2 linked regions of the Homo sapiens genome follow. The protein of the gene in region 2 purifies or fractionates together with the protein of the main gene of each other region. This does not show direct contact. Each region holds a gene or a part of one and is shown on either strand. Other genes may lie near its edges.

What was found.
Region 1: the proteins of DTX4 (region 2) and DSTN purify together in Homo sapiens (affinity purification with mass spectrometry, with the first as the bait; one large-scale study listed by BioGRID). This does not show direct contact.

Annotation. Positions count from the first base shown.
Region 1 is NC_000020.11:17,568,729-17,572,874, reverse strand, and holds the start of DSTN (destrin), read right to left. Parts: upstream 2,801-4,146; 5' UTR 2,667-2,800; coding exon 2,664-2,666; intron 1-2,663. UniProt on the Homo sapiens protein: Actin-depolymerizing protein. Severs actin filaments (F-actin) and binds to actin monomers (G-actin). Acts in a pH-independent manner.
Region 2 is NC_000011.10:59,175,132-59,178,631, reverse strand, and holds part of DTX4 (E3 ubiquitin-protein ligase DTX4), read right to left. Parts: intron 797-3,500; exon of another isoform or gene 1-796. UniProt on the Homo sapiens protein: Regulator of Notch signaling, a signaling pathway involved in cell-cell communications that regulates a broad spectrum of cell-fate determinations.

The DNA.
Region 1 (4,146 bases), on a different chromosome or scaffold from region 2:
TGAAATATGGCAATAAGATAGCCCTGTTTTTCCTGTACAAAAGGATCTGTTATTCTGTGTACTTTTCTGCTTAAAATGTTTCAAAATTATTATTTTAAAACTTGGAGTTGGAAAAGGTGATTTGTCTCAAGTCAATTAATCCTTTACAATCTGTTTTCTCATATGTTAAATAGGCATGTGAATACATGCCCAACCTATTTCACTGGGTTGTAGTGTTTTTGCTAATCACCAAGTATTAGAATACTTGAATACTGCGCCAATTAGTTCAGTCTGTGAGACCACAGTCCAGATTAGGATAAGGTTAAGGGTTAGATTATCGTGCAAACCTTTTAACTCTACTTCAGGGGCAAGACTACACTCTTACTTTCCAAGAAGCATAAAAGATACTCTGGTTACAAGAGGAGCTAGGCAAGTCTAGGTGTGATGTCTCAATCCATATCCAGTAGAACTACTGAGCAAATAACCTTAGTAACTTGATGATGGGCTACTAAACAATCTCTGTATAAGGAGGCTGGCACACCCAGTACACACACACACACGTTTTGTTTGGGGTCTGTAATTGTGGTTCACGTGGAGGCAGACGTTGTTTGTTTTTTGTTGGAGGAGACATCTGAAAACATCTAATCTCATCCTGAAGCGCCCAGCTGGTTTCAAACTGCTTTATTTCAGGTGCTTCTAAAAGACTTGGTGAGTACAAGGAAGTGATTCTGCTAATTTAGAACAAACCCATCGGTAGTTAAAATTTAATCTTAAAAGAAACTTGGAACCAAGCATCTAACCAAAAGAGCTAAAAGCAAAGTGCTAGACTCTGGGATAATACCCACAATATTCTCTAATCACTGAACTAAACAAAGATGCTCCTGCGCTCATAAGGCTAAAAACAAAAATAACCTTTAAAAATGGGGGGTCTATAATCTGAACTCTAAGAGTAACTTGTAAGGTCTTCTTGATCTCCCTAAAGCCAACAATTTTGAAGCGTATTTGGAAATCGCTCATTTCTAATTTTTATTTCTCCCACTCCTCACAAGAACCAGGAAATATAACAGACCCTTCCTTCCTTGAATTTAGTTAAGCTTTAACTAAAACTAAGCATTTAACTAAAGGTAAAATGTTTGGTCTCTTATTTTCAAACAGAAAAATAAAGTCTGTATTAGCCACTCAATAAAAAAGCATAATGTCAAATCAGAAGTCTCTAGAGCAGACCCTAGTCAGCTTCAAAGCACTTTCACAGAGTGAATGGTCTTAAGCGTACCATAACTCAAAGCCCCTAGATTAAGTCTTTCAGTATAAAGTAGCATATACATTTAAAATGTTATTAAATTTCTAATAATTAGATATTAAAAAGACTCAAGATGCTGATACTTTGTAGCTTACAGCATTAAACCAAAGAAGAACCAAAAACTGAACAGTATCAAATCCCTATTACATACATATCTACAGTCATCAAGAAACTACCGGTTTATCTTTTCTTTCACTAAGGGGCCGCCTGCATGTTCACGGAAGTTGTAGTAACTTAAGAAAACCAAAACTGTTATACAGTGAAAACAGTTTGTATGCAGATAAGCTGGTACCAACTGCTTCTAGACAGATGCAATTACAGTGTAATATTTCTAGCAAAGTCTGGTAAGGCTACGCCTGCAAATCACTGACCAAAAATGGTAACAGTGTGTGCACACTAACGAAAACGACAAAATGTTCCAACTGATAGTTCAGTTGAGAATACGTTTTTAAATAGCTAATTAGAGTGACAGTGTAAAGGGGGAAAATATGTAAATTAAGCAAAATGTCCATCATATAGAATATACTAATGAGCACCTGTTTACTTTCTGGTGACTCCAGTATTTTAATGGTTTTTAAAGCTCTTAAATTTGGTTGTATCAGCATCCCAGCATCATGCCCACACCTTGCGCACCAAGTTCTGGCAGAGTCCAACTGTCTACAGGTCAGAAAAAAAATTCTAACCATACACGGACAGATCGGGCAGGGAAGGGTTAAAACAGACACTGCCAAGCTTGACAAGCACGACGAGAGTGCTGCTGGAAGCCGATTGCCAGATAAAAAGAAAAAAACAAAGGAGCTGCAAGGCCACCCCGTTCTAAATCATGCCAGGATCCTGCTCGTTAGCGATCATTCCGTGCTCTAGGACTGTTCCATAAAGGCTTTATCTTCCTTATTGAGATGGACAGACCTCAAGGGCTGGAACGCGCACAAGTCACCAAGCGCCTCAGCGCCAGCTCTGGGGAAACCCACGCCAACAAGGACGGTGGCCGGATTCCGACGCCCCCCGCCCCCCACTCCCCGGCCTCGGTGTGCAGACCCCCGGATGGATTTCACAGAGCGGGTGGGGGCGCTCGACCCCAGCCAGTTGTTGCAAGGCCGGGTCTGGAGACACCCGCAGAGGCCACGCTCAGGGCGGCGGCCTCGCCCCAGCTGGGAGCTGCGCAACAGCCGCGGATCCACCCCGGGGCGCGGGGGCCCAGCCAGGACGGCGGGAGACGGAGGCCCAGAGACCCCCCCTCACCCGCAGCCCGGACACTGCAGCCGGACCGGGTCCCTCCCCGGGCTGAGGCACGGCTCACCCCCTTAGCCCCGACTCCGCGGCGCCCCAGAGACACACTGCTCCCGGCCGCCTCGGCCCACGCCTCGGCCTCCCTCCTACTCACCATCTTCGCCGCGGCGGTCGCAGGGACGCGGGGGAGGGAGCCGGCGGGCAGCGAGTATGCAGACCGTCCTCCTCACGGCTGCGGGACCGAGAGACCCAGCGCTGAGCTGACGCGGCGGCGCGAGCTTACCCCGGGGCGGGCGCGCCTCAGGACGGAACGCGGCTGCGCACGTCACGCACCGCCTGCCGTTGCTACGCAACCAGCCGGCCAGGCAACGCCCCCCCGGCGGCTATCCAGAGTCTCGGAGGGGAGCTTCCCTCATCTGCTGAAGGCTGCGGGGCAGGGTCCGCCTCACCAGAAAGTGTTTAGGGGTGGGGGTGCGTCCTCTCTGGTCTGCAGGAGGCTAGAAGGCGGACTGGGCTGGCTCCTGCTGGCGAGGGGCGGGCAAAAGATGATGGGGGAGGGGTGGCCTTCCTTCGCCTCCTCGGCGGGGCCACCTGACGCCCCACCCACTGTGCAGGCATGGCCCGCGCGGGGAGGCAGCCACCTGGCCAGGTGTGCCTGCCGCTGGGGCGGGGCGAGGCCGTGGAGGGGAAAAGGAGGGGAGAGCCGGGGGAGAGGGGTACAGAGTGTGGGAAGGAGGGGGATTTGGAGGGGAGAGGCGAGGGGCACATAGTTGGGGGAGGAGGAGGATGGAGAGGGGAGGGAAGAGGTGAGGGAGAGGGGACAGTGTGGGGAGAGGAGGGGGATGTGGGGGGAGGGGCGAGGGGGCACTTAGTGGGGGAGGTGGGGGCAAGGGGAGAGGTGAGGGAGAGGGACACAGTGGTGGAAGGAGAGAGATGTTGGGGGTTGGGAGGGCAGGGCCCGAGGAGGGGGAACGCACTGGGGGAGGACCCACGGGAGCGGAGTCGCGGGCCGCGGCAGCGGGGACGCCTCCCGCATTTTTTACCTACTTTGGTGCGATTCCCGCCGCCCTCCCCTGATTGGCCCAGTCTGGCTTGTCCTGCCCTCGCGTGAGGGGAAAAAAGTCTGCACATTTTTCCTCCTTCCCGAGGCGACCGTGGCCATGCAGAGTGCTCTGTGAGTCACCGTTAATTTCAGGTCTGGAAAAACAAGGAGCATTTATTTATCTTTGGGAACTGCCGGGGAAGGAGGCCGGCGGCGCGCAGGGGTGTGGCTGGGAAAGGCCGCGCTGTCCCGGGACGGTGGCGCCAGCCCCGCCGCTCAGTTCTCCGGGTTTTTAATTTGGAATTGTGTTTTTCTAATGGGCGGTTGCGTCGGAAACACGGTTTTCAGAGGGCCCAGATGAATCCCAGCGTTTTTGCTGCGGGTGTTTTTGTGGGAAATAAAGGGAACAAAGAATTTTATAAATTAATTTAGGTTACCGAGAACATCATGGCCTCGACCAAAACTATTTTAATTCTCCAAATATGAGACTTTTGGACAAGATGGTCAGTATTTTTTTTTCCGGCACTACGTAAAATCTAGGTTGTATGTGGCTTTTGTTCTGCCCCACTCAACATAGGAACCCATTTCTCATTAC
Region 2 (3,500 bases):
AATGCCACTGTGGAGCTCTTTGCATTCTTAGTGCCTAATGCAGTGTCTGGCAGTTGCAAGGGCTCCAGAAACTGCTGTGACTGATTGAAGACTTCTGGCTACTTTAATATTTAATCATTTATCACATATCCCTGAGCACTCATTAACTGCTATGGGGAATGCAGATTCAAGCATTCCTCAATTAGCTTTCAGTCTGAAACAGGGTTAGAAGACAAGTGTGTGAATGACTATTTATGAGGCAGAACGTATCACAAGGAGAATGCCAACAAAATGCATGTTGGCAGGAAAATTGACCATGTCCCTTCCCTGCGTAAATCCCTTCCATGACTTCCCATTAGGTTGAAATCTAAATCCCCCCTACCCACCAACATACATGGCCCCCTCATAGCCTAACTGCCCACATTTCAGCTACACTGGCCTTCAATCTCTCCTCATTGCCAGGCTTCTCTGATTCTGGGCCTCTTCACAATGCTGGTTCCTCCCCAAAACTCTGGCATCTTTTCCATAGCTCTTCCCACAGGAAGAGCTTATTTCTTCAAGGAGGCCCCCTGGGCAGTCCTGGCCAGGTGAAATTCTTGTTCCTTTTAAAAAAATTTTAATAGCATTCATCTCAATGTGCAGTTACATATGTATTTGTGTGGCTAATTTGATGAATATCTGTCCCCTTCACTAGAGAGTGAGTACCATGAGAGTGGGCATCAAGGTATGTGCTCATGGCTGTATTCTCTATGCCTGCATGTCCTAGGCACTCCAAAATATTGATTCAATAAATGAAGTAATGATGGTTTGGAAAGCATTTCAAGGTGTGGAGAATGTTTTAAGAAATGAATAACAAATGGCATGGACTCGTATAACAAAAAGAATTTTGAGAGGTAAAAATGGCAAAGGACAGTGTTTCAGAAGAAGGGACCTCAAGGCTAGCTGGGGGGGTGAAGGGTGTCAGAGAACTCTAAAGGAATGCATGAGGATAGAGGTAGCCTCTGTTTGGCAGATTGGAGGGAAATATAAGGCATAGAAGAAGACAATCCTGGAAAGATATGTTAGAGCCAGAGAGGGTATGGAAGGTCTGAAATGTCAGACTATGATAGATTTAATTTGTAATCAATGAAGAGCCAGTGAAGTTTGTTAAGAAAAGAGGGGCAAGACCAGAGCCACTCTGTCCATTAGTTCCAGGTGAGTGGAGAGGTGTTGGCATAGAAAATGAAAAGAAGGTGACAAACTGGAGAGACCTTACAGAGAAAAAAATGGGTAAGACTTGATCATGAGTAGCTGAATGCTTTCCAAGTGAGGTTTGAGGATCGCCTCCGTCAGAATCTCCTGGGGTATGAATTGAATCAGCAGTGCCCTTGAGACCTACAGGCCAGCATCTCCAGGGCCTGGGCATGGGAATCTGCATGTGAATGGCCACCTTGAGTGGTGCATGGGTACACTCAAATTTCAGCTGTTGGGCTACAGGGTCTATGTGCCTGTACCTATTAGGTGCCCAAATAAGATTCTAAATGACAGAATGAGTCAAAGAATCCTGGGTTTGGACCATGGGAAAGTGGTAAAATGGTGTCAGAGGGATGTCAAGAGGAAGAGCTGGTTTTGGAGGGAAAGTTGTTGAGTTCAATTCAACGCTACAGAGAGTCAGAGATAGCATGCAGACCTCAGAACCAAAGTGTTGAGACAATAGACATGGTGGGATTTTACTCGCTGATTATTTTCAGAGACCACCCTATTTTGGATGTGCTAGTTCTCGACTTTTCTAGAATCAGTATTATAAACCAGATAATCTGTGAAGTAACCCAAGGAAAGGGGCTCCAGTAGGATAGGGATTGAGGATGTTCATAAACTAAGGATGAAGAAGGAGAAAGAAAATCAGTTTTTTACAGATTTTCCACCTGCGTTACAAAGCACCCAAAACCTTTCAGCTTCTGGGAAGTGGAAGGCCATGCCTTCCAGGCATGCACTGAGGTCTCTGGGGCATGTTACACACATCTATGTAAGTGACTCACTGCCGTTAGGGCATGCGCTAGGTCCAAGAAATCCCAGGCCGCTCTTACCAGCATCCCCCACGCCCACCAGAATTTTCCGTAAGGACAAAGAAATATTTGGATGCTCTATTATTGCTATATCTCACATGTCTGGAACAGTGACTGCGCTAAATAGTTGCTCCATAACTATTTACTGAATGTAGAAATAGGACATAGGGCACCTAATTCAGAATCTCGGCCCTGCCATTGACTAGCTGTAAACCCTTGAGCAACTTAATCACTTTCAATTTGTTTCCTTACTTATAAAATGGGGATAATAATAGGTTCTTCATAAGATTGTTGTGAGGATTAAACAAGATAGTGTGTGCAAGGTGCTTGCCATGATGCAGACACATGGTGCATCCTGCACATTGTAATTATCATGTGGTCATCATGATGCCTGCCTCCTCCACTTCTATGCTAACATAGGGTAGAGGGTTTTGTGGCGGGGCTAAAACTCAGCTTCTGTCAAATCATTTAATTCAGCCCATGCTCTTTCTCTCCATCTGACACTTCTCACCACTTTAAAAGACATAAAGAAGGCAAAACCTGCACAGAAAACTCAGAGCTGGAAAGAACGCTCCTTTACCCTGTGCTTATCAGTATCATCACTGGCACAGGGGCCAACCCATTCACCTGTTGATCTGCATGATGGGAGGAAAGAAAAAGAGGGAAAGAAGAAATCTTAAGCCTGCTCTTCATTCTAAAAAAAAAAAAAAAAATGAGGCCTGACCATTTAGAGACTTGGTCAAGGTCACGGAGTAAACAGTGAGCCTGGAATGAGAGCCACAGTTGTTTGTCTCCACTCTCAGCCTGGATCTTCCGCATCCTGCTACTGAAAACCTGGAGTTGGTAGGGTCAGGCATGCTGAAAGGTACAGGGGAAAGTGATGCTGAAGTAAAGCTCTTCAGTCACTGCCCTACAACAGAAAAAGGACAACCCAGTCAAGGTAAATGATGGCAGGTGGAGAGGGGCCCACCGAGGCTTTTGGAAGTGGCCAAGAGCCAGTCCCATCTATCTCACCCCATCTCTACCCTTATTCCAGATTCTCTAGCCCAAAATGCCTAGAGAAGACTGGCATAGAATGCAAATAAGATCAGACCTCTAGGCAGTCTGGGGAAGGAGAAGGGCCCAGGGCAAACAGAGGCGGGCAGACGGGTGTCTGGGACCTCCCAGCCATCTCCCTGGAGACAGGCTGGATGAGGTCAGGAGCCCAGGCGAGTGGAGAGCCTGAGGACTCTATCAGCAGCAGAGCAAGCAACTTCTAAAAAGACAAAGCTCTCATGTCAGGAAATGTCCCCATACAGAGGAGGCAACAAAAAAGGAGAGGAATCGCCTCTGGGCAGGGGACTTCCAGATCTCTTTTGTTTATGGGGATGTTTCTGGTTCCCAGCTTTGAATTATGGCTTAAGGATGGTGGGTAATTTAATTAAACATTGCAAGGGCTTAGCTGAGGTTGCCTGGGAGCCACTGGTTTAAAGTTCC